7 linked regions of the Homo sapiens genome follow. The protein of the gene in region 1 interacts with the protein of each later gene in a pairwise test. Each region holds a gene or a part of one and is shown in the gene's direction. Other genes may lie near its edges. The genes, in order: KHDRBS2, BMP7, HNRNPR, FOXD4L3, CHTOP, RBM10 and NCOA5.

Region 1 (4,005 bases):
AAATTTATCTAATATTTCTTATAATATATGATACTTTAAAGCCTGAATTGGAAGCCAAAAAAGGGTGGCAATTGGATCAAGTCACTTAACTTCTGTTTCTCATATCCTGATTTGCTATTTTCAGATTCACAATTATGTAACCCATTCCATAATTTCAATTTGGCGTATAGTTATTTGGTACCTTTTTTGAGGAGGAATTTGTTATTGGATTAATTCATAGCCTAGCCAGTGCTTCTCATGTGACAATGATCCTGATATTGAGAGAATCTTACTTATTTTATCATTTCCCTAAAGGATAAAGAAATTTCTAAATTTCACTGGATGCAATGAGTTTTTAAATGACATCTTAGACCACACCATGGGACTAGAAAAAAACAGGACTCTAAAATTCGTAGGAAGGCTTTAAATATTTAGAATCTGCTTGTCTACTGAGAGACCCAAGAGGACAGATAAATTCTAAGTTCATTCGTGGGTCTTTACAACTTCAAATTTCAGAGAAACTCCCATCATGAGGAACCCAGTCATGATTTGTCTCTCCCTATGTTTGGGCCTCTTCCATGCTCAAGGTTCCATGGGACTCAGGTTAGAATCCCTTCTATATGTGGTACTTGCAGTGAAGAAATCCAGAGGCCTAAATATCGCTGGTGAGCAATGAGGGGCTTGGCCAACCATATAAAGTTCAATGACACACTCTATGGTGGCACTGGAAAAACGTTCATTGGTTCAGTACTCTCCAATCTCAATCCAAAGAACATATTTTCACTAAGAAAAACTGACGTGCATTATCATGTGGCAATTGTAAATGTGTAACTATACATAAACATTCTGATATTAGGAAAGATAAAGATGGACACAAATAAAAATAATACTTTTCCTGATCTCTCTTTGCTATTGTTACCAAGAACATGTAAACAATGGAAGCAAGGTCTGAATTAAGTGAAATAAGTCCTTAATTTCCTCTGCTAATGGTATGGAATCTTGGAAAATTAGAAACTTACTTTTGCTTGGATAGGAAATCACTTTGGCTGGCGATTTACTTTTCCACGTACAAGTATCATGAACTAACAATAATTTCCATTTTCCTAGCCTTGAGCAAGGAGAAAGAGCATAGTATTAATTCACATAGAAGCAGAGCGTTATAAAAGAGCACATATTTGTGCCATGAAATATGATACTTTTGTACTTTTTAATAATGAGATCGCACTACGATTACTTCATTGAATTCAATAGTGAAATATTTTTGATACTTAGATAACCCTTTTGAGTAAGAAGTCTGATCTTTAACTCTATAACAAATATATAAGATTTCTAATTAAAGAGTTTTTTAAATAAATGTTAAATTTCTTTAGCTCAACTGTTTCTGTTTTTTGAATTATCACTGGAACTTTCTGCATAGTTCCCTTGTTCATTCATCCATCCTTTCTTTCATGTAACCTTTCACTACATTCAGCCCTAACTAGGCATTGAATTTCTCCCAGGCACTTGGGAAACAACAGTGAATAGCAACAGTCCCTATTCTAATGTTGGCTAACATTTAGGAAATGAAGAGTTTTAGCTCATCAATTAACTGCCCTAGAGATTTAGAAAAAGTCAACTGAAGCCAAGTTGATGAGTAGTTATTAAACACTTATGTCCTCTGTAGCAAGTCCCTAGGTTTATGTCAATTTAAAATTCTGAAAAAATCTGGGAGTGTATGTGACAAGTATTCTGTCACTCCGCTCATGATTGTTTAGCTGTTTTTCAGGAACATTCAGAATCTAAAAAAGGACCTGGGACTTCTATTTCCTGGGAAAACTTGAAGCCTCTATTGTCTCAGCTCTTAAATCCTGTAGAGTGAAACCCAGGGATTTCTAACACTCTGGAATAATTGGAGCAAAAAGTAGTACATTCTTTTTGTTAAAAACCATGATAAATTGGGATACATTTTACCATCAGAGGACAAAAACAATGATATAGCCTGGATTATCTCATAAACGTGGTGTAAATATTCATTTTACATAAGGCTAAGAAGGTACTTTCAAGCTTGCACACACTGAATGTGTTTTCCCTTTGAGTACACCAAAAACAGTTTTATTTAGTTCCAATCAAGCAAATACATGGAATTCTTTTCATTTTTATGTTGATAAAGTCAAATGGTTTGGGGATAAATTCCTGCCCTCAAAAGATTACATCAGAAAGACCAACATCTGCATTTTCCCACCAAAAACAACATGGTCTAGAGCACAGATCTGTAAACTTTTTCTGTAAAAGCCCAGAGTATAAATATTTTAGGCTTTTCAAGCAGTATAATCTCTATCACAGTTACTGAACTTTTCCTTTGTATCGTGAAAGCAGCAATAGACAATATGTAAATAAACAGCATGCCTGTGTTCCAGTAAAACTATTTATAAAACAATCAGCTGGCCAAATTTGGTTCACAGGCCAGAGTATGCCAACCTCTGATCCAAGTAAACCTGTATTTTGAGCAATGGGAACATTTGTTATATTTATTTCTTTCTTACTCCTATTTTATATCCTATAAAAGACTAAACAGTGAAAGAGATATAATTTTTTATTTATTATCAGGTATCAGTTGTAATAATAATGCCCTGGTGAGAATATTCTCAAAAAACTAATATTTGTCCACTTAAGTGCCATTTTTCCCAACAATGATAAACTTTTGATCATTTTTCTACATAGTAGATTGTTTTCATTTGCTCTATATTATAATGAGTACAATTGAAATTTTTTATGCTTTTCTAGTAGTCTTTCTCAACTAATTCTTATGATCGGAGGAACTATCTGGGGGCAAATGCCCTACATTAGTTGCCCTCAATCTGCAATTGTTTCCCAGTTAATATTTCCATTTTTTTATATATCAATTATCAATATCTATGCGTCTCTAGTAACCTTCTTTCCTTTGTCTGCACCTCCTTTTACACACCCATGCATGAAATCTGCTCTTGATGAGGAACTAAATTCTGATTGAGAGACCAAAATAACCTAGTTGCTGGAATCACATAAAATGTCACCATAAAGCCAACATTGAGTTATTTTAAAGAAGAATTGCATTTCTTTTCTGGGGACACAGATTTTACAATAGCTATTTTCCACAGTACTCAAAAGCTTGGTTACTTGTTTCTTGCTTTTTTGGAATAATAGATTTCTACTACCCTCAATGTTTTGGAACCTAGCCAAAATTAGCAGGTAAATGGAGTTTTCCTGGTGTACTAATACTTCTTTATTTACTGAGTTGTTTACTTGGAAAAACTGATATCTTTGTGTTTTGTTTTGTTTACTGATTTTGCTGCTTAAGGTTTTTTCTACTCTATATTCTGCTTGTCTCTCACTTTCTCTATACAATTTAACACAATGGATCTCAACCCTGGACCATATAACTATCATCTGGGGAGTATTTGAAAAATACCAAACCGTAGGTCCCAGCCCATAGAGTTTTCTAATCAGTAGATTTGGGGGACAGAGAGCAGGTGTTAGTTATCTTTTATTTTGATTGTTTAATATTTCCAGGTGATTCTCAAGTTATTCAAGGGCTAAGGACTACTGGTTTCCTATATCCAATTTATTTATTTATTTTTAAGAATTCTATGTAAAAAGATTTTATGGGCAGGGGTTTACATTGATACTCCTCTTTCTATTTTGTGGCATTTAAATCTAACACATAATAAATACACAGTACACATTTATATACACACACTTTTTTGATGGTCTCACGATGTGGAAAAAATAGGCTTTAGCGTTCGGTGTTGAGATCTTTTGTTTTCTTTTTCTCGGTCAACTATTGTGTCTTAAATGACTATTTTTGGTAACTGTGAAGTCATGTGTGTGTTACTATCTTTCTCTTTTTCACAGCACCAGAAGAATGGGCCACAACCCGCTCTAGCTTGAAGGCACCACCGCAAAGGTCAGCCAGAGGGGGATACAGGGAACACCCCTATGGTAGATATTGAAGGTCCTTCCCACCTGTGACCTCACCTCAAAGACAATTCATAGCCTGTGGTCTCCACA
Region 2 (4,005 bases), on another chromosome or scaffold:
GTCCACCGAGCCAATTCCCCTAATTCTGCAATCTTCCAGTAGGAACAAAGCCCTGAGCTTGCAAATGCTCTTCAAATCCCCCACGCTTCCTCCAGCTCGCCTGTTCAGAGATAGGCTTTTTCTTTGCATGTCCCCAACCTGGTTGCATGTCCCCAACCTGGGCCCGCACAGCTTCTTCCAGCTGAAGGCCTCCTGCAGACCTCAGCCCGGGGGAGCCCAGAGCCTGCCCTGCTGTCCCCGCCATGTGGCTGCCTCTGTCTCTGTGCCGCCAGCTGCCCAGCTGTGCAGGGCTGGGACATCTGACGAGCTGTGCCTGAGCTCCAGGAAAGCCCCGGGGGTGCCGAGGATTAGCCGGCTTTGGGTCAGCCTCAGCGTCTCTCCCCTTGTGGGAGTCACTTTCCACTGACTCCTCTTGATCTCTCGGAATCCAGATTAAATTCCGATAATGAGCCGAGCTGGAGGCCTTCCATAGCCCTGCGGCTCTGCTTAAAGCGCGGCCCCAGACAGCTGGAAAGACATGTTGGAGCCGCCCTTGGCGGGCTGTGGAGCGAGTGGGGGCTCAGAGGCAGGTCTGGGGACAGTGGCCTTGGCTCCAGAGGCCTTGCTGGGGTGAGAGGGGGCTGCGAAAGGATCGGAGTCTTATCCTCATTTTCTGAACCCCAGGCCTGAGGCCAGGCCAGCTGGGGCCTGGCTTCCAGGAGCTGGACTTGCTCCTGTCTCCATTGGTGCAGACTTTGGTTCCAGGTGAAGGTGAGGATATTTGGGGTAGGGGTTGTGCTGTTTGCCCTGTTTCTGCTGTGGAGCTGGGACCTGGCATCTTCCATCCCAGTCTTCCCCGTCTCTCCTTGAGCATGTGTCAGGCTTGCCCCACTCCACAGCGCTGCCCCACATGTAGGCGACACACTTCTGCTTTGGGAGCTGGCCTCTGAGAACCTCCCTGGGAGGCCAAGGCCAGCCAGGGCAGCAGAATCTGCTCCAAGGGAGTCGGCCGCCACCAAGGTCGAGATGATGTTGGCAGCTGGATGAAAATGTCCCTGGGTTCATCTCAGTGATTTTGGCTGCCAGGAGGGTGACCTCAGCGTGGTCTCGAGGGCCAAGATTTGGATCAGCTGCAGCCTGAGTCACTCTGAGGAAGAGGGAGCTGCCCCCTGCCTGTCCCCACCACACAGGATGGATTGGCAGAGGAGGCCTGGGCTCAGTTTCCTGGGTCCCTTCAGCCCAGGCAGAGGCTCTTGCCCTCGACTAGCCCTGGGATGGGGGCCCTGAGTTTCTGCCTTTCTGAGAAGCTCCCTGGGGACGCCGTGATGATTTTGGTCCATAAACCTGAGAAGGTAGGTGGGGCTGGATGTGGTAGGAGGAACGATGCAGCCCCCTCACAGGGCGGCCCTCGGGCAGTGGGCCAAGGGCTCCTTGCCCAGTCCTCTCCTGGGGATGCTGGGGTGGTGGCAACTTATGATGTGCGGATTCATGACTTGGTAGCAAGACTCTGGGCGGGTTTTGCCCTGCCGTTAGCCCCCATGAGCGTGTTTGGGCAGAGAGCCATGGTCACGTTCCAGAGCATGTCTCCACCCTGTGGTTGAGGCTTCTTGTTGCGTGGTGCTTACTGTTTATGACTGTGCTGGACACTTCAGCTTTGTTTCATGCCTTGGAAAGGTTCCTATGAAGATGTATCATCCCCATTTTACAGGTGCGGAGCCTGGCTCAGAGGTGGGAAGTAACTTGCCCAAAAGCACACAGCTACAAAGTGGCAGAGGTGGGGCTCAAACCCAGGCTCTTAGATTTCAGCAGTCACCATCTTAGCCATGGCCGTGCCTCAGTGATTCCCATAGTGCTGATTCCCTCACCTGGGGCTCAGATGGGTCCATTGATGAGTCCTGAGCTGGTTTTCAGCCTTGGCTGTGCAATAGAATCACAGAGGCTTTTAAAACTCCTGATCCGTAGGGGTTGAACTGTCATTGGTGTGCTTTAAAAGCTCCCAGGTGATTCCCTGTGTGCTGGGGTGTGAACAGGTGGCTAAGATCTCTCTAATTTCTCACCCATGAGCTGTCTTACATGCCCAAGAGGAAGGAAAGAGATTCCTTTTTTTTTTTTTTTTGAGATGGAGTCTCACTGTGTTGCCCAGGCTGGAGTGCAGTGGCACGATCCCAGCTCACTGCAACCTCCACCTCTCAAGTTCAAGTGATTCTCCTGCCTCAGCCTCCCAAGTAGCTGGGATTACAAGTATGTACCACCATGCCTGGCTGATTTTTTTATTTTTAGTAGAGATGGGGTTTCACCATGTATTGGCCTTCTGTGACACATTCCATGTTCCCTTCAGCTTGGTGTCTCAGAGAAGACTGTTCTTCTTCCCATGAGACTGAGCCCAAAGTGTAGTCCAGACCACAATTGTCAGTCTCAATGGCACAGGAAAGGGACTGGCTAAGGGTGAAGATCCCTTTGGACTCTGGCTCCAGAGGCTTCTGGAAGCTTCTGGAAGCTTCCAGAAGCCTCTGGAGTTTCTTGCTGCTCCTGAAGGCTACATGCCTGTTTCCTCGTCTCCTGGCTTCTACCCCTTGCCACTACACCTCAGCCCCAGGGCATGAGTTCTGGTTTTGAGCTGCCTTCTCAGGATGTGCCAGGTCAGCTTCCTGAGTAGCCTTTTCAGAGGGCAAGGAGGATTCCTTTTGGCTGCTGGGAACTTCCAGGATGTCCTGGAAGGTCAGAGGAGAGCAGCCCTCATCAAGGAGCCTTGGCATTTTTCCTCGCAGTCCCTTTCTCTGGGCCTCACTCCAGAACCGAGACTGAAGCTGCCTGAGAGGGAGTGGCAGGCCCTTAATGCCTTTGGTTCCGCTTGGGGTCCTCTCATGGATCTGCAAGGATCCCTCTGGAAAAAGCCACCCAGCTGGGCAGAGATGGCAAACCACTGTGTTCAATCCAGTTAATGCCAGAGACACAGCCAGTATCCCCTACTCAGCATCTGGGGGCCAAATGCCCGTTGGCTTCCTGTCCTGTGGCCTGAGGCCATCTGGTGGGCCTTGGTGGCTTTTTTTTATCTCTGTCCCTGTTATTTCTTCCCATAATTCATCCCGAGCCTGGCTTCACAGGGAGCATACGGGTGGTGGCTGGGAATCGATGGCAACAGATTCCGTTTGCTGAGTGTTTGCGGCGGGCGGGGGCTCAGCAGGTTGCCCACATTTTCCCTGATTCCCCGTAGGTGTTATATCACGTTCAGTGAAGCCGAGCGGGTGTCCCCACGAGGTGGTCAGTCCTGCCCCTCTTGTAGACCACCTGTGGGAAAGGTCTGCTCTCTTTACGTTTCCATCGATTTAGCTGGGTCCACAATGCGATCTTGGAGCCTCCTCTCTCCCATGACACTTGTCTATGCTGGGAGAAGGGATGGCTGCCTTTGGGAACAGTCATGATGACAAAAGCTAATTGCATGCAATGGGGGCTCTTTACTGCTTCCCACAACAACCCCCCATGGAGACACCCTTATCCCTGCCCACCCCTCTTTTTTTTTTTTTTTTTTTTTTTGAGAGATAGGGTCTTGCTCTGTTGCTCTGCTGGAGTGCAGTGGAGTGATCACAGCTCACTGCAGCCTCGACCTCCTGGGTTGGAGCAATCGTCCCACCTGAGCCTCTCAAGTAGCTAGGACCATAGGAACACACCACTATGTCTGGCTAGTTTTTTACTTTTGTAGAGATGAGGTCTCACTGTGTTGTCCAGGCTGATCTCAAACTCTTGGCCTCAAGTTGTTCTCCTGCCTTGGCCTCCCAGAGTGTTGTGATTACAGGCATGAACCACCGTGCCTGCTCCCACACCCTCTTTCACAGACAAGGAAATGAAGGCACAATACTGGGTTGGGGATTAAGGATGAGAAGCTTCCATCTTTCCCCAGTCGCATATGTTTTTCTTCCTTGGCTGGTGGATACACTTTTTTCTTTCTCCTCGTGGCAGTCCAGTCCTGTAAATTGGGAAATGGTGGGGCAATTCATATTTTCCACACAAGGAAATTGAGGCAGAGAC
Region 3 (4,005 bases), on another chromosome or scaffold:
GCATGTTGAACTAGAGAAAACAGGGCACTTATTTCACACCGATACTGTATTTGAAGCAGAGCCAGGAAAATTTGAAAGTCCTTAAATCTTGATTAAGTGGTCTGTGGGTGTTCATTCTGTTTTTAAAACAAAACTTTTTAAAACTGTGTAAGACCCGAGAGCTGAGGGGCTTTTTAGTAAAGGATTTTGTAGTGATTTTGATCTTTTCACCAGGACAGAACAGCTGCTTTTGTTAATCAGCAATTCTACCTTCAGTAAATTAAAGCCTTTATCTTACCCGGTGTACATGAAGTTCCTTAAAGATCTAATGCTTCCATGTACATTTTCTATGGTTTTACAGGATTATTATTGCCAATTTAGGTCAGATACATCACAGGAGGAATAAATTATTATTTTGATAGAGGTTATTAGCAGCATGTATACAAATTAGTTTAGATAAATCATGCATTGTCCTACAAACTAGTTATTTCTGGCTTAATGTAATATAGCTCCTGAATTTTTTCCAGCAGCATAATAAAATGGCTAATCAGGTGAATGGTAATGCGGTACAGTTAAAAGAAGAGGAAGAACCAATGGATACTTCCAGTGTAACTCACACAGAACACTACAAGACACTGATAGAGGCAGGCCTCCCACAGAAGGTGGCAGAAAGACTTGATGAAATATTTCAGACAGGTATAATATGCATTTCTTGTTTCTGACTGGTTATGAAAGTGAGGGCAAACCACTTTGAATTTTATAGTTTTTTAAGGTTAAATAATACTTATTGTTTCTGATCTGTAGAGCTGAATGTTTGTTACTTTCCCTTCATTGAAGGCATATTGGGTTTGACTTTGATACTCTTATTTCATTATTTTGAAGCCTTCTTAGTGTTGAATATGCAGTCTTAGTTGTTTCAGAACAGCACATCGATTTGTCTTAGATTTACCACCCATAAAAATGTATGTTTCTGCATACCAAATTTTACATTTTTTTCTTAATCAAAATCAGTCATCATTTTGCTTTTGCTTTTCTACTTTTACCTTCTTAAAGTGATTGTTAAATCAGCTTAGGTCTGATTAGGTGGCATAACAAGAGGATAGCTGTATCGTCTGAAACCATAATAAATGTCAGACTCCTTGAGAGTTTGTGGCTTGTCTAGTTTCTAATAGAAATCCACATCTCTCCGTAATTTGGAAGTGTTTGGTTGTAACAGCTGCTTCTTTTTTTTTTTTTTAATCCAGAAGTGCCATGGTTAAGTGCTTAAGCAAATTTGAACATCTTAATATAGTTGGTTGTAAGTGGTTTGAAGTTTTAAAGAGGGAGAGAAATATTTACCCTTAGGGAGCGTTGTTCATAAATGAATGTGTCCTCCTCCTTTGGGGACATAGATGGAAACTTTCTTCCTCTGTGTTGTGTGTGCCTATTCAGATTCTGAGAGAGAATTGAATTGTCTCACTCACAAATGTGTCTTAAGTACAGTAGTAGCAAATAGCTGTTTTTTTTTTTTTGTCCTTAAAAAATTTTTAAATCTGGGAAGCTTAGCATAATTTTAGACATTAAAATGACTTATAAAAATGACTCCTGGGTCATGGTCGCATTTGAAAATCAGTCCTCAGGAACTTTCTGTGACATTCTGCCATAGAGAATTGGCAGTGATCTGCTTAGAGATGCTCTCTTGTAGAGTGTTTTGTTATTGATAAGAGGCTGATGGTTTGGGCGTAGACTTGGTTTGACAAAATGGATTGATGGGTGTCCTGAGTTGTGGCTTCGGGTGGTGGTATGGAATATTCAAGTGAGGCAGCTCCAGTTATTTACACATGCTCATTTCGAGCTTTTGAAACAAATCATGGCAACTTTTTTAAAAAGTAACTTTGGAAGTGGCATTACATTTATTTAAAATTTACTATATGGAATAAAGTTCTTTTTAGCTTTATCAAAATGGAGTCACTTTTCATGTTCATATGAACTTGGGGGTTTTAATCTACGAAATACTTGCATTTTACGTTGGATCAATTCTGAAATATATTCCATATGTAAATATGACACAAACTTAACAGACTTAAGAAATTATATTTTAAACTTAGTAGATGTTCTGTGTGCAGTTGAATATACTTACATATATGAAATGCAGTGTATATATTTTCTGTCAAGTTTACTTGTAAGACCATAAAGTCTTTATTGCCATTTGAAAATGATTGTCGTTCTTGACAGTCAATGTGAATGCCACAGCATCTTTTAAATCTCAGCTTGTCACTTCAGAAGAACAAAGAATGCCTTAAAGTATGACTTTCAGAATTGATTAATCAAGCTGCACTTGCATTTGTAGAAGTTTAAAATTATGCCTTTCCACATTCTGACTGCAGCAAAGTGGATGCTCAGATAAACAAATGCATTTCAGTTTATCTTTGGTGTTCAGGAGGGAAAGCCTTTTGACACTTTTTGGAGAGTGGAAAGAATTACTTAGTAAAATTTGTTTTCAGATTTTCCTCCACCTCTTAGGTGGTTAGCATCAACTGTAACCGTCTGTAATTTGAAGGTTTATCCTTGGAAAACGCAATGTATTCTTATCACTCTAATATAAACCAAAATTTGTTGTATTAATGCATAATCTGTAATACAGTATGTACATCAGATTTAACTTTCAAGACTTATACCTTTGGGGGAGTGGGAAATGGATGTTAGGATTTGGCGGGGGAGGTTTGTGGATATGGAGATTGAAATTCATGTTTTTGGTTGTTGACATTTTATCTTTATTTTCATATTTGTCCTGGACCTTTCTATGTAGTATTTGGATAGCTGCGTATATGCATATAGTTAAATGAAAATACAGTTTGTTAGTGATCATATTGAATGTAACAATTCTTGATTAAACGTCAGTAGAGCTTAGATTACCCCTTTTGTTGCAATAACGTTACCCCTTTCAATTTAATTTTTAGGATTGGTAGCTTATGTCGATCTTGATGAAAGAGCAATTGATGCTCTCAGGGAATTTAATGAAGAAGGAGCTCTGTCTGTACTACAGCAGTTCAAGGAAAGTGACTTATCACATGTTCAGGTAAGGTCGTTACTCAGAAATGTCTTTGAACAATTAGTAATCTGAAATTATTTTACTATTACTTTTTTTCCTATGGAGAAGTGGTATTTTTTGTTTGTGACTACCTCTTCTTTTAAAAAATTAGTTTAAAGGAAAAAAACTGCTTGTGGCAGAGTTTCAGAAGCCCAAGTATAAAGCAAAAGTTTTCTCCCACCCCCTTGTGCAGTAAGTTATTTTAAAAACTTAAAATTAAAGCCAAGTTTTGATGGTTGTTACTATAGGTTTTTACATGTTACTCAGCTTTTTAACATTTGGGGGTTATTTGATCCTGTTTTATTATCTTGGAGGAAAATGTAGGTGGGAGGAATAGTTTCCGACATCTGGCAAAGACAGTCTAGATACAGTCACATATCAACAAGTGGAAGACTGTGTTTTCCCAGGGTAGAAGGTAAGCTCCCTGAGGTCTATACTGCCTTACTGCTGTCTGCTCCAATCTCTGGCACATAGTAACCACTCGGCAAATACTTGTTGAATGAATCAGTAAATCTTTTGTTAAAATCCTGGTTTTCTGAAATTTAAATTTAATTATGTATCTGACCCTTCAGATATTTTTGGTGATTCTTTTTATTGAATTACTTGTCTGTTCTAGAACAAAAGTGCATTTTTATGTGGAGTTATGAAGACCTACAGGCAGAGAGAGAAACAGGGGAGCAAGGTGCAAGAGTCCACAAAGGGACCTGATGAAGCGAAGATCAAGGTAAAACTTGACTTGGGTAGTTGTAATGAAATTGCATTTAATGATGAGGTCAAATGCCTCTTTCCATGTTTCCTAGAAAGTTTCACTTTTTTTTTTTTTGAGACGGAGTCTTGCTCTGTCGCCCAGGCTGGAGTAGCGGCGCAGTCTTGGATCACTGCAAGCTCCACCTCCCAAGTTCATGCCATTCTCCTGCCTCAGCCTCCCAAGTAGCTGGGATTACAGCCATGCACCA
Region 4 (4,602 bases), on another chromosome or scaffold:
AAGCGGATCATGAGGTCAGGACATCGAGACCATCCTGGCTAACACGGTGAAACCCCGTCTCTACTAAAAATACAAAAAATTAGCCAGGCGTGGTGGCGAGCGCCTGTAGTCCCATCTACTTGGGAGGCTGAGGCAGGAGAATGGCGTGAACCCAGGAGGCGGAGCTTGCAGTGAGCTGAGATCGCCCCACTGCACTCCAGCCTGGGCGACAGAGCGACTCCGTCTCAAAAAAAAAAAAAAAAAAAAAAAAAAAAAAAAGAATGAAGAGCCAGAGCCAGGCATAGTGGCACGCCTGTAGTCCCACCTACTCAGGAGGCTGAGGCGGGAGGATCACTTGAGCCCAGGAATTCAAAGCCAGCCTGCGCAACATAGACCCTGTCTCTAAAAATGAATTGGTTATAAAGGATGAAGAAAGGAAGGAGGAAAGGGAGAGAGAGAAGCCCTTATAGAGTGGGTGCATTTCTTGTATGTGGGGCCACTTTGTAAGAACAGGATTTTTCAAACTGGGCCCATACTGGTATGTGTGAAATCAATTTAGTTGGTTATGGCCATTTTTTTTTAAAAGGAAATATCAGTGATCACTATAGTGTAAGTATATTGTTTCGTGAAACCCATCTTAGTTATGTATTATGTCTGTATGTGTGAGATTGTGATATAAAATGTATTTCTGTGGTTAAATATTCAAAGAAATTGGAGAACCATTGCTACAAGGGGACAGAGGACTCCGTGTGAGCTCTCCTGCCTTCCCTGAGTAAACTTACACAATTTAGTGCTGGGACATTTGAGCCTTTTCTGAAAATTTGAGTCAGGGAGAGCATCTTGAGGAGGTGGGAAGGAAGGTAGAAGGAGCAAAGCAACACCCCCCTGAAGCCTGGGAATATTGTCAGAACCTTAAATATAATTCAGCTCACCATTCTGGGTAAGGACAGACTCTACCAATGAAAATGGGTGATTACCAGCTGTGAAACACAAAAACATACTTTTACGGTTACACATTCCTTTACAAACAACCGTGTACATTTCAGCCTCCTGCCCCACCATTTCTTTTCTCCAGGCGGGAAGGCTGCATGTTGAGGTGGTCATAGAATGTTGAGTATCATACTTTCCTACCTCGCTTTTATTTGCGCGGGTTTAAATGCGCCTTAACAGAACCCGTGCAAAGGCTTGCCAACTGTCTGGCTGCACCGGATGAGTAGAGCATCTTCCTTGGTGGCAGGTGGGTGCGAGGAGGAGGGGGCTGGGCTTTTCTCCGGACGGGTGTTTGCCCAGAAGACCATCATCCCTGGACTACGTTAGGAGGAAGTGGCACCGCTCCGAGGTAGGGGAAGAAGGGTTATAAAGGGGGGAGTCCACCACACATGGTCTTGAAGAAGCTTTTATAAAAGGCAAAGGCATCTTTGCCGGACGTTGTTGCAAAGGAGTAGAAACAAGCAGACGAAAACATCCCAAAGGGTAACCACTAGCGTTCCTGCTTCTTGCAACATTCATCCCAGGCTTCCAGCTCAGCCCGCCCCAGGCCAGGTGATCGGCCGCCACATCCCCTGCGACTGAAGCACCTGCTCCTCCATGAACCTGCCAAGAGCTGAGCGCCTTCGCTCCACACCGCAGCGCAGCCTCCGGGACTCCGATGGGGAAGACGGTAAAATCGATGTCCTGGGAGAGGAGGAAGATGAAGACGAGGTGGAAGACGAGGAGGAGGCGGCGAGCCAGCAGTTCCTAGAGCAGTCGCTCCAGCCGGGGCTGCAGGTGGCCCGGTGGGGCGGGGTTGCGCTTCCCCGAGAGCACATCGAGGGCGGCGGCGGCCCGAGCGACCCCTCAGAGTTTGGCACCAAGTTCAGGGCACCGCCAAGGTCTGCGGCGGCCTCTGAAGATGCCCGGCAGCCGGCAAAGCCCCCCTACTCGTACATCGCGCTCATCACCATGGCCATCCTGCAAAACCCGCACAAGCGCCTCACGCTCAGCGGCATCTGCGCCTTCATTAGTGGCCGCTTCCCCTACTACCGCCGCAAGTTCCCCGCCTGGCAGAACAGCATCCGCCACAACCTCTCGCTGAACGACTGCTTCGTTAAGATCCCCCGCGAGCCGGGCCACCCAGGCAAGGGCAACTACTGGAGCCTGGACCCCGCCTCCCAAGACATGTTCGACAATGGCAGCTTTCTCCGGCGTAGGAAGCGTTTCAAGCGCCACCAACTGACCCCGGGAGCCCACCTGCCCCACCCCTTCCCTCTACCTGCTGCACACGCCGCCCTGCACAACCCCCGCCCAGGCCCTCTGCTTGGGGCCCCTGCCCCGCCGCAGCCAGTCCCGGGGGCCTACCCCAACACCGCCCCCGGGAGACGCCCTTACGCTCTGCTGCACCCGCATCCTCTTCGCTACCTACTGCTCTCGGCCCCCGTCTATGCCGGGGCACCGAAGAAAGCAGAAGGCGCGGCCCTGGCGACCCCGGCACCCTTCCCGTGCTGCAGCCCTCACTTGGTCCTCAGCCTTGGGAGGAGGGCAAGGGTCTGGCGTCGCCACCGGGAGGCGGATGCATCTCTTTCAGCATTGAGAGTATTATGCAAGGGGTCAGGGGAGCGGGTACAGGGGCTGCGCAGAATTTGTCCCCGACCGCGTGGAGCTACTGCCACCTGCTCCAGCGACCATCAAGCCTGTTGCATCCCCAGACCGCTGCCCCTTTGCTGCAAGTGTCCGCCGCCGCCGCTGCTCGGACAATTTTGCAGCAATAGCAGCAGCATCAGGAGGAGGACTGCGCCAACGGCTGCGCTCCCACCAAGGGCGCGGTGCTGGGCGGGCACCTGTCGGCCTCGTCGGCCCTGCTGAGGTATCAGGCAGTGGCAGAGGGCTCTAGGCTGACATCGCTGGCTGCCCCTTTGGGCGGAGAGGGGACCTCACCAGTTTTTTTAGTATCGCCCACGCCCAGTTCCCTGGCCAACTCCGCAGGGCCCTCCTAGAGCCAGGTGGGAGTGGGGAGCGACCCGCAGCTGCTCACTCCACCTTGCGCGGCCCATACTGGGCGTGTGCATCTGAATCCCGCTGGAGAGCAAACACGAACTTCTGTTCGCTGCAAAATGGTTAGAAAGAAACAGCTGGATTACGTTCCTCTAAAAACCACCTGAACGTAACCTTCGCAGGGCGTCAAGTCATCTTTTCTTGCCTTCGGTTGTGGCTTCTATGGCTGTCCCGATTTGCGCATTTCCTGGGGTACTATGAACGTGAGTGGGGTATTTTGTTCTGGCATTAAAAGAAAAACAAGCAAGCAAACAAAAACACAGCCTCCGATGCCAAACATGTTCCCCCTTCTTCACTTCCTTGGAGCTGGAAGTATTATTCCTAAGTCTAGTGCAAAATGCTTCTACTCTCTGTGTCTTCCTGATAGGGATGTTTAATGTAAGTAGGATATTAATTTCAGAACATTGATTTCTTATCTGTGTGTCTGACGTGCCATCTTTAATGTTAAAATTAAGGTGTTAAAATTAAGCCTAGTTATATAGACGAAATAAAATGCTAAGTCACTACACTACATCGTTTATTTTCTATTACATCTCATTCTTCCCTTTCTAAATGGAACTTTTTAAAACCTACGTTATTTTCCCTCAAACAATTTATTTTCACAATTCATATTTATTATAGATAGCAGAAGTAATCCATTTTAATATGGCCTTTAAAAATTCCAAATATTTGAGGTTGAAAATGTCCTGGCTTTTAAAATAGGAAATTTACTATTTATGAGACTTCTAAAAGAAAAGAATAGGAGGGCATGTAAATATATTCTCCATTTATTTTTCATCACCCCTCAACAAGCTGGAAAACCATTTGAGATAAATTTGGAATGTAGTGGCCAACATGTACTCAGAGAAAATAAAAGGCTATAAATTATATATATATATATATATATATATTTTAAGCACTAGAATTTTCAAAACTTATTTCTTAAAAAAAAAAACAACTCTGAAAAGACTTTGCAACTAGAAAGGTTTAAGTGTTACTCGGCGTCAGGGGACGGAGTGGGGGGAAACCAGACAAGAACGCCCATCATGAATTGCTCCCCACAAAGAAAACAAATTTCTAGGAACTTGGCCGTTTTCCCCTGTCCTGAGTGGGGTTCCCGATTCCGTGCCGCTTTGAGGGAAGCTGCTCCGTGAATGTGAGAAAGTTTTTCCCCCAGCCCCCATCTACTCCCCACCCCCAGCTATGAATTTCTTATTTCAGGAGGGAGGACAAACATGGAGACACACATTTTTACAGGAGTCTAATTGGCCGATTTTTCTCCGGCTTCTCTTCTCCATCCCGTCTCTTGGAATTTCTTGGCACGCCCTACCTGAGATCCCCTACGGGAGATTTCCTCTTGGCTCCTGCGGTTCTGAGGACGTTCTGAAAAGTTCCCAAGCCCCACCTTTGGTAGCTGCCCAGACCCCAGCTTCCAATTCTTCCCTCTTCTTTGCACAGGTAGCCGTCAGCCCCATAGCACCACCAGCGTCCAAAATAGACCACTTTTAGCAAATCCGGCAGGGCTGGGGCAGTCTAAGAGTTTGGAAACAAACTGAGAATAGAGGGGTCCTATTTCATGCCAGGTTCTCGCTGGTTTACATTCCAACTCCCCTC
Region 5 (4,511 bases), on another chromosome or scaffold:
GCCACCGCGCTAGGCCGAAAGAATCTTCTTTCAATCAACGAACATTTACTTAAGTGGTACTATGTGTAAACACTGTAGGAACTGAGGCTCCAGCATTAAGCAAAATAACCACGATCCTTACCCTCACATGGGTAAGGATGCTGGGCCATTACTTACACACAGACACACACAAACACATACACACACGCACACGCCCAAGTGCCAGGAAGGAAAATGAAAGGGTCTTGACGTGCCAGTGGAGCAGAGGAAGGGTTGCAGATGTGTCATTCTCTCATTCCTCAAACATATGTACACTGTATTGTGCACATAGTCATTAGAAAAATCCCTTATTGAGGCCGGGCACAGTGGCTCACGACTGTAGTCCCAGCACTTTGGGAGACAGAGGCGGGCAGATCACTTGAGGTCAGGAGTTGGAGACCAGCCTGGTGAAACCCCATCTCTACTAAAAATACAAAAATTAGCGGGGCATGGTGGTACGCGCCTGTAATTCCAGCTACTCAGGAGGCTGAGGCAGGAGAATCGCTTGAACCTGGGAGGCGGAGGTTGCAGTGAGCCGAGATGGTACCACTGCACTCCAGTCTGGGTGACACAGCGAGACTCCATCTGCAAAAAGAAAAAAAAAAGAAAGAGAGAAAAATCCCTTATTGAGCAGGAAACATAGCTTATGCCCATAATCCTAGGAGTCGGGAGGCTGAGGTGAGAGGATCACCTGAGCCCAGTAGGTCAAGGCTGCAGTGATCCGTGATTCATTGCGCCACTGACTCCAGCCTGGACAACAGAGCCAGACCCCGTCTCAAAATAACAACAACAAATCAGAGAGAGAAAAGAGAAATCCCTATGTAGGTCTGCAACAAAATAAACACGGATGGCAGGTGTGGGGGGAGGACATGGAAACGCAATCGAGGACGCAAAGGTGCCCCACCCCAAGAAGGAGTAAACAGTATCTAGGCCAAGTTGGGGAGGGGAGGAAGTGAGGAGGAAAACATGGACGGGCGGTGGTGTTGGCCGGTGCAGGATGGGAGAGGAATTTGCTCCTAATACTGGCCTCCTGGGCCTTGGCTGGAGCATTTACGGCACTTCACAACTCTCAGACTGGGCGAGTGGCCATGAGGGGAAAACCAGTGCAAATTCCCCAGGCCCAATTGTCCGGAAGAAGACGAGGCAAGTCCGCGTAAAGATTTTTAGACGGTGTACCTTGGCTAGGGAACGGAGGGGCGAGGGAATTCGGGACCCAAATCCCCTCTAAGGCCCACATTAATAACTACCCCCAAGAGGTTGCAGCGCAACCACTACTGGAACGTGAAGTCCCCGGCACGCCCCAACAACAGGACCATTGGCCACGCCCCTAGGGGCGGGGCACTGCATGGAAAGCCCCGCCTTCGCCCTAAGGCTCCGCCTCTGACCTCTGCGCAGGCGTAGCTCAAATCTTTCCCGCCCTCTAGTCGTGCGCGGATCTGACGCCTGACGTAATTGCGTAGACGCCATTTTAGCCGGTCAGACAAGCACTGGACGTGGCGGCCATTTTGTTTTGGACACCGAGCAGGAGCTGGCGGCCGCTGCAGACGAAAGGCAGGAAAGGGCAGGCCGGGTGAGCAGACGGATCGGCCGACTAGACAGCCAACCAGCAACAACGAACTGAGCTCGCATACTACCGCTTACGCATCTAACCAACCGCCCATCTAGCTAACCCGAGCCCCTCCACCGTCAACTCAGGTTCGGCCGGTCCCCGGCCCGCCTGCCGGAGCCGTGGTGGCAGCCCCGGGAGGAGCACTGGCGTCTGTTTCCTTCGGTGAGTTTCGGTAGTGAGAAGGAGCCGGGGGAGGTGCGGTCTTGAGGAGCGGAAGGGGCCGGCGGACGCGGAAAGGGGGTGGTGGCATGTGGACATAGCTACGGTGTTGGAGCGTGGAGGCCCCGGGGAGGAGGCGGAGCCCCTGCGAAGGGGCGGGGGAGGGGCTGAACTGGAACCTGGTGGCGGGATTGATGGAGGTTGGGGTTTGATAGGATAAAAAGGAAACTTGGCGGGTAGAGCAGAAGTGGAAGTCTTGACAGGGCTTTGAGGATGGTAGGGAGATTAAGAAGTACAAGACTTTGAGGAATGTTGGAAATTAATGGCGGCTTTAGGGTTAAGTTTTGTGGAGGGCTCTTTGCGAGCTAATTCCCAGGTGAATTTAGAAAACCTTTCCTACTCCCCCAGATCGTCAGTTTCTTGTTAAAGTCCCTACTTGATTCTGGAGTTGAAAGCCACTTTTGAAACTAGGCATGCATATATATATGTATATATATACATACATATATATATATATTTTTTTTTGGGGGGGGACGGAGTTTCGCTCTTGTTGCCCAGGCTGGAGTGCAATGGCACGATCTCAGCTCACTACAACTTCCGCCTCCCGGGTTCAAGCGATTCTCCTGCCTCAGCCTCCGGAGTAGCTGGGATTACAGCCATGCGCCACCACGCCCGGCTAATTTTGTATTTTTAGTAGAGACATTTCTCCATGATGGTCAAGCTGGTCTCGAACTCCCAACCTCAGGTGATCCGCCCGCCTCGGCCTCCCAAAGTGCTGGGAAAACAGGCGTGAGCCACCGCGCCCGGCCCTGCCTGTATTTTCACTGTAGATCAGTGGTTCTCAACTTTAGCTGCACATTAGAAGCACCTAGGTAGCTTTCCCCCGACCCCACAATTGGTTCATTTCCAAACCTCATTACCAGAGATTGTGGTTTAATTGATCTAGGCCCAGATGTCTGTATTTTCTATTTTTTTAATTAATTTATATTTTTATAGAAACGGGGTCTTACCATGTTGCCCAGGCTGGTCTCGAGCTCCAGGGCTCAAGCATTCCTCCCGCCTTGGCCTCCCAAAGTGCTGAGATTACAGGCGTGAAGCACCGCGCCCGCCCTGTCCGGCCCTATGTTTTAAAAGCTCCTTGGATAAGTCATATGTAGTCAAGGTTGAAAATGACTGCTCTAGAGTAAAAGCCAAACTCGGCCCGGTGCGGTGGCTCACGCCTGTAATCCCAGCACTTTGGGAGGCCCAGGTGGGTGGATCAGGTGAGGTCAGGAGTTCAAGACCACCCTGGCCAACGTGGAGAAACCCCGTCTCTACTAAAAATAAAAAAAAATTAGCCGGGCATGGTGGCACGTGCCTGTAGTCCCAGCTACTCAGGAGGCTGAGGCAGGAGAATGGCTTGAACGGGGAGGCAGAGGTTGCAGTGAACTGAGATCACGCCTCTGCACTCCAGCCTGGGCGACAGAGCCAGACTCTGTCTCAAAAAAAAAAAAAAGCCAGACTCCATACTTTGATTGCTAGATTGGCTTCTGCCGTTTTTGAGAAATTCCCGGGTATTTTGTGGGCCTTGAAGTTTGTTTGTTTGTTTGGGGTTATTTGTTTGTTTTAAAGAGATGGGGTCTCAGGCCAGAGTGCAGTGGCATGATCACGGCTCTTTGCAGCCTCCAACCCCTGGGCTCTAGCGATTCTCCCACCTCAGCTCCCCTGAGTAGCTAGGACAACAGGTGCTGGCCACCATGCACCGCTAATTTTTTTTTTTTTTTTTCTTAGTAGAGACTGGGTCTCGCTTTGTTACCCAGGCTGGTCTCTAACTCCTGGCTTCAAACCATCCTGTGCCCTTGCCCTCCCAAAGTGTTAGGGTTACAGGCGGTGAACCACCATACCCAGCCACCTTGAAGTTATAATAATCTGAGGTAATTGCCATAGAAACTTAAGAACTTTTGCTGGGCGTTGGGTCCCAGTGATCCCAACACTGGGAGGCCAAGGTGGGAAAATCCTTTGAGGCCAGGAGATTACGGCTGCAGTGGCCACTGCATTCCAGCCTGAGTGACAGAGCGAGACCCTGTCTCAAAAAAAAAAAAAAAAGAAATTTAAGCACTTGAAATGTGCCCTCGTGTGCTCTTTAGTCATCAGTGATAAGGCCTTTTTATTTATTTTTGGCTTGGGCCTTGCCACTTATAGAAATGATGTCACTATTGTGATTTGCTCATTTTACGTATTGTTCTTTGTAGATTCTCGGGATTCGAAGATGGCTGCACAGTCAGCGCCGAAAGTTGTGCTAAAAAGCACCACCAAGATGTCTCTAAATGAGCGGTGAGGCAGCCAACAGCAACTTCAACTCCTTCCTAAGAAAACATTACTTAACTTGGCCCTGGGGTCCAATGCACAAAGCCAATTTTAAGCTAAATACCAACAGAAGGCTACAGACCTCTGTTCTTAGTTGCATCTCATGTGGTACACAAAACAAATTGGGCGGTTGTTTCAAAACCCCTTATCAGTAGACTTTTATGTTAAGCTGTCTGAAGTATTTATTTGGTGGGATGTATTTTAAAAGACTCCTAACACTCTTCCTTTTCACATTTTTTTACGTTGATACTGGGGTCGTGCAGCACGGTAGCATGGTACCCTGGCTACAGTAGGCTTGCTGCCCAGTCCAAGGCCAGCAGTGTTGTGTCTGGCCTGTAAGAGGCAGGTAGCAAGCCATGAATATGTCCAAAGGCCCTTG
Region 6 (4,005 bases), on another chromosome or scaffold:
TACTCTCAGACAGTTATTTCTTCAGCTCTGCTATGAACAAGGAATAGCTGGAACACTGGGTAAAATACAGAAATCCTGAGTAAAATTCAGTGATCCCTCGCCATCCAGGTGATTCCGAGGCAGGTGACCCAGCCATGACACTTGAAGATTGCCTAGAAAAGCAGACCTAACTCTCTCAGAAAGCCTCTATTAAGACTCAAGAGTCAATAGCTTTATAAAAAGAGAAAATAATTTTTAAAATGTTTTACGAAGTGTTTCTTCTACCACCACTCCTTTTAAAAATGTAGAATTGTAATATTTTGTTTTCTGAAAAGTGAGCCCAAATTTGAGATAAGGTCATCACCTAGTGTTATTCAGTCTTGGCTTTCATTAGAAATGTTTTTTGAAAGACATTTGATTTTGGACGGTATTCACTAGAAGTGCTCTGTGGCCATTTCTGAATTTGAGTAGCTGACATACATACTTTGTTCAAACTTTATTACCAAGTAAAACCATTGACTTTTAAAAGCCCTCAAGTGCAGAGGTTTGAGTTCATCATACTTTCCAGTTCAAGGTAGGTTTCTGTCATAGGTCAGCAAAAGGCTTCCTCTTGTCATGTTTATTTTTTCATTTTTATTCCCAATTCCCACCTCTGTGGGCAGCTGCTCTGTCGTGTTTGATATGTATCCTTCTATGATACATATCATAGAAAATGTATCCTTCTATGATACATATCATAGAAAATGTATCCTTCTATGATACATATCATAGAAAATGTATCCTTCTATGATACATATCATAGAAAATGTATCCTTCTATGATACATATCATAGAAAATGTATCCTTCTATGATACATATCATAGAAAATGTATCCTTCTATGATACATATCATAGAAAATGTATCCTTCTATGATACATATCATAGAAAATGTATCCTTCTATGATACATATCATAGAAAATGTATCCTTCTATGATACATATCATAGAAAATGTATCCTTCTATGATACATATCATAGAAAATGTATCCTTCTATGATACATATCATAGAAAATGTATCATAGATTTATCATATAGATCATTTTCATATAAATGTATCATATAGATACATGTATCATATAAATACATACATAAATGTATCATATAGATACATTTTCATAGAAAATGAAAATATGAAGTGTTGTTTTGAGTGACTGTGTTTTCAGTTGACACACATGGCATGGTGCCACAGTCTTCGTTTTGTTTCCTGAACTTTGTATTACTCAGAGTGGGAGGTTTTTTTTGTTTTTTGTTTTTTGTTTTGAGACAGGGTGTCTCTATGTTGCCCAGGCTGGTCTCAAACTCCTGGGCTCAGGCAATTCTCCTCCCTTGGCCTCCCAAAGTGCTGGGATTAAAGGCATGAGCCGCTGTAACTGGCCAACAGTGCTGTTTTTTTTTGTTTGTTTGTTTTGTTTTGTTTTGTTTCTTTGTTTTGAGAAAGAGTTTCACTCTTGTTGCCCAGGCTGGAGTGCAATGGCGCAGTCTTGGCTGACCACAACCTCTGCCTCCCGGTTTCAAGCGATTCTCCTGCCTTAGCCTCCCACATAGCTGGGATTTCAGGCATGTGCCACCACGCCTGGCTAATTTTGTATTTTTAGTAGAGATGGGGTTTCTCCATGCTGGTCAGGCTGGTCTCGAACTCTCGACTTCAGGTGATCCTCCCATCTTGGCCTCCCAAAGTGCTGGGATTATGGGCATGAGCCACCACACCCGGCACAGTGCTGTATTTTTAACATCTGTCTGTATTGCCATGTATATGTTACTACTTTGTTTCTAATTGCTGGCAAGGGCATCATGGGGCATGTCTACTGAGTTTTACTTAATACTTCCCCCAAGAGTAGATGCCTGTTGTTAATTTTGATGTGCTAGCATCATTTTTTTTTTTTTTTTTTTTGAGACGGAGTTTCGCTCTTGTTGCCCAGGCTGGAGTACAATGGCGCGATCTCGGCTCACCACAACCTCCACCTCCCAGGTTCAAGCAATTCTCCTGCCTCAGCCTCCCAAGTAGCTGGGATTACAGGCATGCGCCACCACGCCCAGCTAATTTTTTGTATTTTTAGTAGAGATGGGGTTTCTCCATGTTGGTCAGGCTGGTCTCGAACTCCTGACCTCAGGTGATCCGCCTGCCTCGGCCTCCCAAAGTGTTGGGATTACAGGCGTGAGCCACCGTGCCCAGCCCAACGTCACCTTTTTTGCTTTATCTGTTAATGTATAGTGTTTTTTGTTTGTTTGTTTGTTTGTTTTGAGATGAGTCTCGCTCTGTCACCCATGCTGGAGTGCAGTGGCACGATCTCGGCTCACTGCAAACTTCGCCTCCCGGGTTCACACCATTCTCCTGCCTCAGCCTCCCGAGTAGCTGGTGCTACAGGCGCCCGCCACCACACCTGGCTAATTTTTTGTATTTTTAGTAGAGATGGGGTTTCACTGTGTTAGCCAGGATGGTCTCGATCTCCTGACCTGGTGATCCACCCGCCTTGGCCTCCCAAAATGCTAGGATTACAGGTGTGAGCCACTGCGCCCAGCCTAATGTAGTTTTTACCTTTTGCATTCAGATCTTTAATCCATCTAGATTCCACTCTTGAATATGGCATACGGTAGGCTCCGGTTTTATTTTCTTCCATATAGTAGGCAGTTTTTCCAGTACCACCTCCTAAATAGTCCATTCTTTCTTTATTGATCTGTGGTACCTCATCTGATTTCAGGTTCCCTCATGTACATGGATCCGTCTTGAGTGATGTGATTTGTTCCATTGGTCTATTTGCACATTCTTGTGCCAGCACCTTACTGTTTTTATTATTATGGCTTTATAGAATGTCTTAGTAGCTCCTTTGCACTTATTTTTCAAAGCTGGTTTAATCATTTATGGGGCTTTATTATATATCAAAAGTTATCAAAGTCCCTCAAAAACAACAAGAATTTTGATCGATGTTACACTGAACTTCTCTATTAATTTGGGGAAAATTATCTTTGTAAGTAGTCATTTCATCTAAGACCTTTGTAGAGAATATTTTGAAATTTATGTAAAGAGCATAAAAAGCTTTCATTTTCATAAATGGAAATACAGGTCTTATGTATTCTTTGTTAAAGTAATCCCTAGGTACTTCAGTCACTTTCATTATCTTTTTTTTTTTTTCTCGAGACTTGGTCTTGCTCTGTCACCCAGGCTGGAGTGCAGTGGCGACCTCCACAGGCTCAAGTGATCTTCCTACCTCAGCCTTCCAAGTAGCTAGGACTACAGGCACGCACCACCACGCCCAGCTAATTTTTTGTAGAGACGGAGTTTCACCATGTTGTCCAGGCTGATCTTGAACTCCTGAGCTCCAGCAATCCACCCACCTTGGCCTCCCAAAGTTCTGGGATTACAGGCCATTATCTTATTTTTTAAAAAATATTTTTCATGCTGGTATTTGCTGGGGTAGAGGAAAGCTGTTGATTTCTGTAAGTTACCCCTGCTGTATGCCCTTATTATTTCTAATACTTCATTGTTGATTCTGATGTTCTTTCTAAGTAGTTGGTCATATTGTATGCAAATCTATCCTGTCACTTATTTATTTTTCTTCATTTATAGTATTGTCCAGGACTTTTAGTACCATATTAAATAGTATAAGTGATACTGGGTACACAAATTAAGATTTACTTTGGCTGGTTGTGGCAGAAAGTCCAAAGGATAATGGCTTAGACAAGATAGTTTACTTTTCTTTCCCATAAAGGCAGTCTGCAGAAGAGCAATTAATCTAGGGCTGACAGGCAGCCCCTTCTGTGTAGCCATCCTCAGCACATGGCAGTTGAGACAGTAGGAAGAAGGGAGAGGAATAAAAGGGAATGTGTCTAAAGTTTCTCCATTAAGTATGGTGCATGCAGTAAGTTTTTAGAATGTATCCTTTAATAAATCAAGAAAATTATCTAATCTTCGTTTGCTAAGATTGACCATAAATAAGTATTGAACTTCAAAATCCTGTGCTTTTTTTCTCCCTTTGTCCATTAATT
Region 7 (4,005 bases), on another chromosome or scaffold:
ATCAACAGGAGGGACAGCTAGGCTAATTCAAATTCCATTAACAATCCATCTTCCCCTTGGTGATATTTCCCTAGCTGGGTTCCTCAGCATGTTATTTAACATGATGAAGTTCCATACAGTCATGTTTATTTGCTTCAGGGAAGAATGATGGTCACCATTAGTAACCCCATCTAAAAACCGAACTAAGAGTCCCAGTTTTTTACCTTAAAAAAAAAAAAAGACAAATTTAACATTGTATTCAAAATCCCAGTTTTTTACCTTAAAAAAAAAGACAGGTTTAACATTGTATTCAAAATAGCGAGCACTAACATTTTAATCATTGTCCTGATCATACTTTATCTCTTAAGATATACCAATAGGGCAGACATAAATTGCAAAGAGTAGGTGAGACGGGCAAGTAATTAATCTGGAAGGGGCAAATCATTTAACTGAGGGTGAACACTGGGTACCTCCTTTGGGTGCATGCTTCCAGTCAAAGCCTTGAGATAACTCCAAATGTATCAATAGTTGACAACAACAAACTGCCTTTATTTGGCAGCCCTAATCATTTTGTATGCCCCCAGCCACAGGGGGTGCATCATTCACAGGGGAAAAAAAACACTACCTATGGCAAATATTTCCTAAAGTTATACCTCTACATTTTTAGCGCTTTCTACGTTTAATAAGAATATTGGTATAAGCATACTGGCAAGACCTTTATAACACCTTGTTTTGCTGGACTTAACGTAGGTATCTTTGGGAGTTTTACAGGATTATCACCTCTTCAGATGTTTCAGTAAACCACAGTTCTGCTGGCTTTGCTCTCTATTCAATAATATGACTCCCTGATGACTCCAGCTGTCAGTGTGTAATTCTGACAATATTGGCCCAGCCAAGCACAGAACTCTGCATGAGGAATCTCTGCTCTGGATCACATTTCAGCCTGAATTCTTATCATCTAACTCTTGAGGGCCACTTCATTGAACTCCTGTGAGTACCTTGCATAGTTACCATGCAAGTTGTCAAGCATCGATACTAAGCATTAGTCCTTCTTCAAAGACAGGATCATGATTCCAGTTGTGCCTTAGATATCTCAGTTACCATCTTCAGCTCAACACCTTGACAGTCCAGATCTTGTAGCATATCTTTATGCAGATGTGGCCTCTAGGTACAAGAAGTAAGACTGTACTTCTGAATGACTTAAAGAAGAACAAATAGAATTAACTTGTCTGCATCCAACGCTCTGCAGAGGATTTTTCCCCATATATTTGTGAAAGATGTTAAACCTGGTATCTCTTTGGTGAAAGTCATTGGGTATCGGCTCATCAGAAATAACCTGGCTGTAGACAAGTTTCTTATATGACCTGAAATGCTTTCTGCTTATCCACAGGGCCCTAATGCTTTTGATTATTGCTTGCTCCCTGGTTGTGAGACAGCCCTTGCTCTAGGTGGGCCACAAAGAAATTCCAGGTTGTGATTACCTCTGCAGTAACACTTGAAGAAGTCATCAGTTCTCAGCAGCTGCCACCTCTACCAATAAGAAAGTTCTGTTTGTGCTGGAGAAGGTTGTCAGTGCTTCCTAAGGAAAAGCATGGACATGTGTAAAATTTGGGTCTGTGAGGTGTGATATCTCATTGCACGTCCATATCCTACCTCCACCTAATGGCAATATTCTGGACAAGTCTGTTGTCTCCATTTCTAACAGTAGCATGAAGCCCTCCTGGTGGAGGATCAACATCATACAGCAGCCAGCCATTTAGATGATGATATTTGTGGACAGTATATCTGTGACAGAAGTTTGAAGAGCTAATGAAGGATTTTTCAGGGTCAGAAAGAGGCTGGCCCTCCCAAGGAAGACATTCCGGTGAACAGAAAGGAAGAAAGGAGATGCTGACCTTTGCAGAAAAGAAAGAAAAAGACAGGGGTCTTCCTCCCTGACCGTCTGTAGAACCAAAGCCAAAGAAAACCATCTTGGATGTGAAGTTTCAGTCTCTTGCCAAAGAGAAATTCAAAGTCCATCACAGTTTTCCAAGATGATCATCTATCAGTTCTTACTCTGTAGGCTGTCACATGCCTGGTGCTCTGCACACCCCTTTAGTCCTCAGGAAGAGACACATTCTACCAGAAGCTCATCACTTGCCACCAGAGCCATTGTTTTCCCCTTCACCCCTTTCGCCCTTACGTCTCAAATGTTTCCCAGCAGTGTGACTATATTCCCCTCAAGGCAAAGAGTATTTGCCTTTTTCCCCCTCCTGAATAGATGAGGAATTTACAGCAGAATTTTAGTTGTGTTTGCCACCTGCCTTCAGTTTGTGGACTCCAGTGCTGAAATTTAACCACTGTTCAGTTTCTTTTTATCCTCTAGTGATGTAGTACCTGAGGGTATGCTGCATTTGGTTCCTTTAGTAAAACACCTCTGGTGCTGTGGGATGATATTGTTAACCTTATTATGCTCCAGAAACCTGATTCTAACCCACTTATCATCTGAGGTCCAGCGTCTCCCACAGGAAGCTTTGTCTTCTTGCACTTTGATTCGTGCATACTACTGCCCTTTTGTTAGCTGTAGTCTTGTTTTGAAAAATATGTTGGGGCCAGCAGCAGGAGCCCTTTTGTTCTGAGGAGTTCTTTGTTTGGGTCCTAAAGCAACCCTAAAGGGTTTTTTGTTTTGTTTTCGTCTCCAGAAGAACAGCAGTCTACCATAGTGTTTATCTTTTGGAGAAAGGAAAAAAGGCTTTGCCTTTCCTTTTGAGAAAATTATTATCTTCTTTGTCCCTACTTCCACCATGCCTTTGGTTCTTTTTCCTTTTGTGAATATCACCTCTTCTACATTTTTACCCTGAAGGCACTTGAGAGGGAATTAGTAGTTTTGTTGCACATGGACTTCAAATTATTTGAGGGAAAGGGTGGGGCTTGCCCTCTCAGACTGGAAGATTGAACCCAGACTTTGCGAATCTAGAGTTTTAGTCAACTTGCAGGGATGGACTTTGACAGGTAAGTAAGGTTTTTCAGTGGATTCAAAAGAATGAGGACCAATCATAACATAACACTTATAATACTCCGAAGGTGGTAAATAACATGCTATGACATGCCCCACCCCGATTTCCACCAGCCCAAGGCTTTGTGTGTGGTCTGTGGTCTGTCAGGATCATGATATCTCAGCCCTGATTGCCAAGAACACTTGAAATTGGATTCCACCTCTAATGACTACTTCTAACTGCTCCCCAAGGCAGGTTTATCTGCCGATCATTAATCCAAAAATACTTTGCAGTTGTCCTTTCTCTTTGGATCTTGAGTGTTTGCCCACATTACATGCTACATCAGATGTTACATGTTAGGAAGATTATATGATGTAATAAGGAAGGTTGAAGTAAGAATCTTGGTTAGTCTTTACTTTATTCTAATAAGAAAAATAATGCTTAGCTATTCTCATTTAAAGTCCCTGGTCTATGATATGTTTGCTCTCACAAGTCAGGAATGCTGGTGAACCTTAGAATATATAACAAATATTTTTCATGGAAGCAAAATTGGCATTTAAATTGTTTTTGCTGTGCCCGTGTAGCTGAGGTGAGGTTTTCCACAAGCTGATGACATCATGATGAATACCTAACGTGTGTAACCATGGTAGACGACAAAAGTATGAGCAAAACATGCTGCCTGCTCTTGAGAGGCTTACAGTTTAGTAGAATAATTCAATTCATTAAACATTTACTGAACTCCTATGGTGTATCCTAGAGCTACAAAGCCTTCAAGAGAACTTCTTATTTGGTAGGGAAGCCACGTAAACAATTACAGAACAGTGTGGTAAGTGCGGTTATAGAAGTTTGTACTGGAGCAAGATTCATTCAACATACATATAGAGCATCTGTCGTATAACAGACATTGTTCTACATAGTGGGTTTGTAGTGCAGAATCAAAGTGACATAGTTCTTGTCCTTGTGGCACTTGTAGTCTAGTAGGGCAGACAGACATTAAGTAAATATGTAATGTCAATTTGTGATAAATGACAAAAGTGAAAACAGTGCTATG

What was found.
Region 2: the proteins of KHDRBS2 (region 1) and BMP7 interact in binary tests that used the Homo sapiens proteins (3 or more experiments, as listed by UniProt).
Region 3: the proteins of KHDRBS2 (region 1) and HNRNPR interact in binary tests that used the Homo sapiens proteins (3 or more experiments, as listed by UniProt).
Region 4: the proteins of KHDRBS2 (region 1) and FOXD4L3 interact in binary tests that used the Homo sapiens proteins (3 or more experiments, as listed by UniProt).
Region 5: the proteins of KHDRBS2 (region 1) and CHTOP interact in binary tests that used the Homo sapiens proteins (3 or more experiments, as listed by UniProt).
Region 6: the proteins of KHDRBS2 (region 1) and RBM10 interact in binary tests that used the Homo sapiens proteins (3 or more experiments, as listed by UniProt).
Region 7: the proteins of KHDRBS2 (region 1) and NCOA5 interact in a two-hybrid assay, tested with the Homo sapiens proteins (2 studies listed by BioGRID).

The regions. Positions count from the first base shown.
Region 1 is NC_000006.12:61,680,905-61,684,909, reverse strand, and holds part of KHDRBS2 (KH domain-containing, RNA-binding, signal transduction-associated protein 2), read left to right. Parts: intron 1-3,849; coding exon 3,850-3,947; 3' UTR 3,948-4,005. UniProt on the Homo sapiens protein: RNA-binding protein that plays a role in the regulation of alternative splicing and influences mRNA splice site selection and exon inclusion. Binds both poly(A) and poly(U) homopolymers. Phosphorylation by PTK6 inhibits its RNA-binding ability.
Region 2 is NC_000020.11:57,221,320-57,225,324, reverse strand, and holds part of BMP7 (bone morphogenetic protein 7 preproprotein), read left to right. Parts: intron 1-4,005. UniProt on the Homo sapiens protein: Growth factor of the TGF-beta superfamily that plays important role in various biological processes, including embryogenesis, hematopoiesis, neurogenesis and skeletal morphogenesis.
Region 3 is NC_000001.11:23,337,522-23,341,526, reverse strand, and holds part of HNRNPR (heterogeneous nuclear ribonucleoprotein R), read left to right. Parts: intron 1-506; coding exon of another isoform or gene 507-518; coding exon 519-675; intron 676-2,918; coding exon 2,919-3,037; intron 3,038-3,665; coding exon 3,666-3,773; intron 3,774-4,005. UniProt on the Homo sapiens protein: Component of ribonucleosomes, which are complexes of at least 20 other different heterogeneous nuclear ribonucleoproteins (hnRNP). hnRNP play an important role in processing of precursor mRNA in the nucleus.
Region 4 is NC_000009.12:68,301,386-68,305,987, forward strand, and holds FOXD4L3 (forkhead box protein D4-like 3), read left to right. Parts: upstream 1-1,481; 5' UTR 1,482-1,566; coding exon 1,567-2,820; 3' UTR 2,821-3,699; downstream 3,700-4,602.
Region 5 is NC_000001.11:153,632,555-153,637,065, forward strand, and holds the start of CHTOP (chromatin target of PRMT1 protein), read left to right. Parts: upstream 1-1,511; 5' UTR 1,512-1,789; exon of another isoform or gene 1,790-1,807; intron 1,808-4,017; 5' UTR 4,018-4,034; coding exon 4,035-4,099; intron 4,100-4,511. UniProt on the Homo sapiens protein: Plays an important role in the ligand-dependent activation of estrogen receptor target genes. May play a role in the silencing of fetal globin genes.
Region 6 is NC_000023.11:47,147,926-47,151,930, forward strand, and holds part of RBM10 (RNA-binding protein 10), read left to right. Parts: intron 1-4,005. UniProt on the Homo sapiens protein: Binds to ssRNA containing the consensus sequence 5'-AGGUAA-3'. May be involved in post-transcriptional processing, most probably in mRNA splicing. Binds to RNA homopolymers, with a preference for poly(G) and poly(U) and little for poly(A).
Region 7 is NC_000020.11:46,072,782-46,076,786, reverse strand, and holds part of NCOA5 (nuclear receptor coactivator 5), read left to right. Parts: intron 1-4,005. UniProt on the Homo sapiens protein: Nuclear receptor coregulator that can have both coactivator and corepressor functions.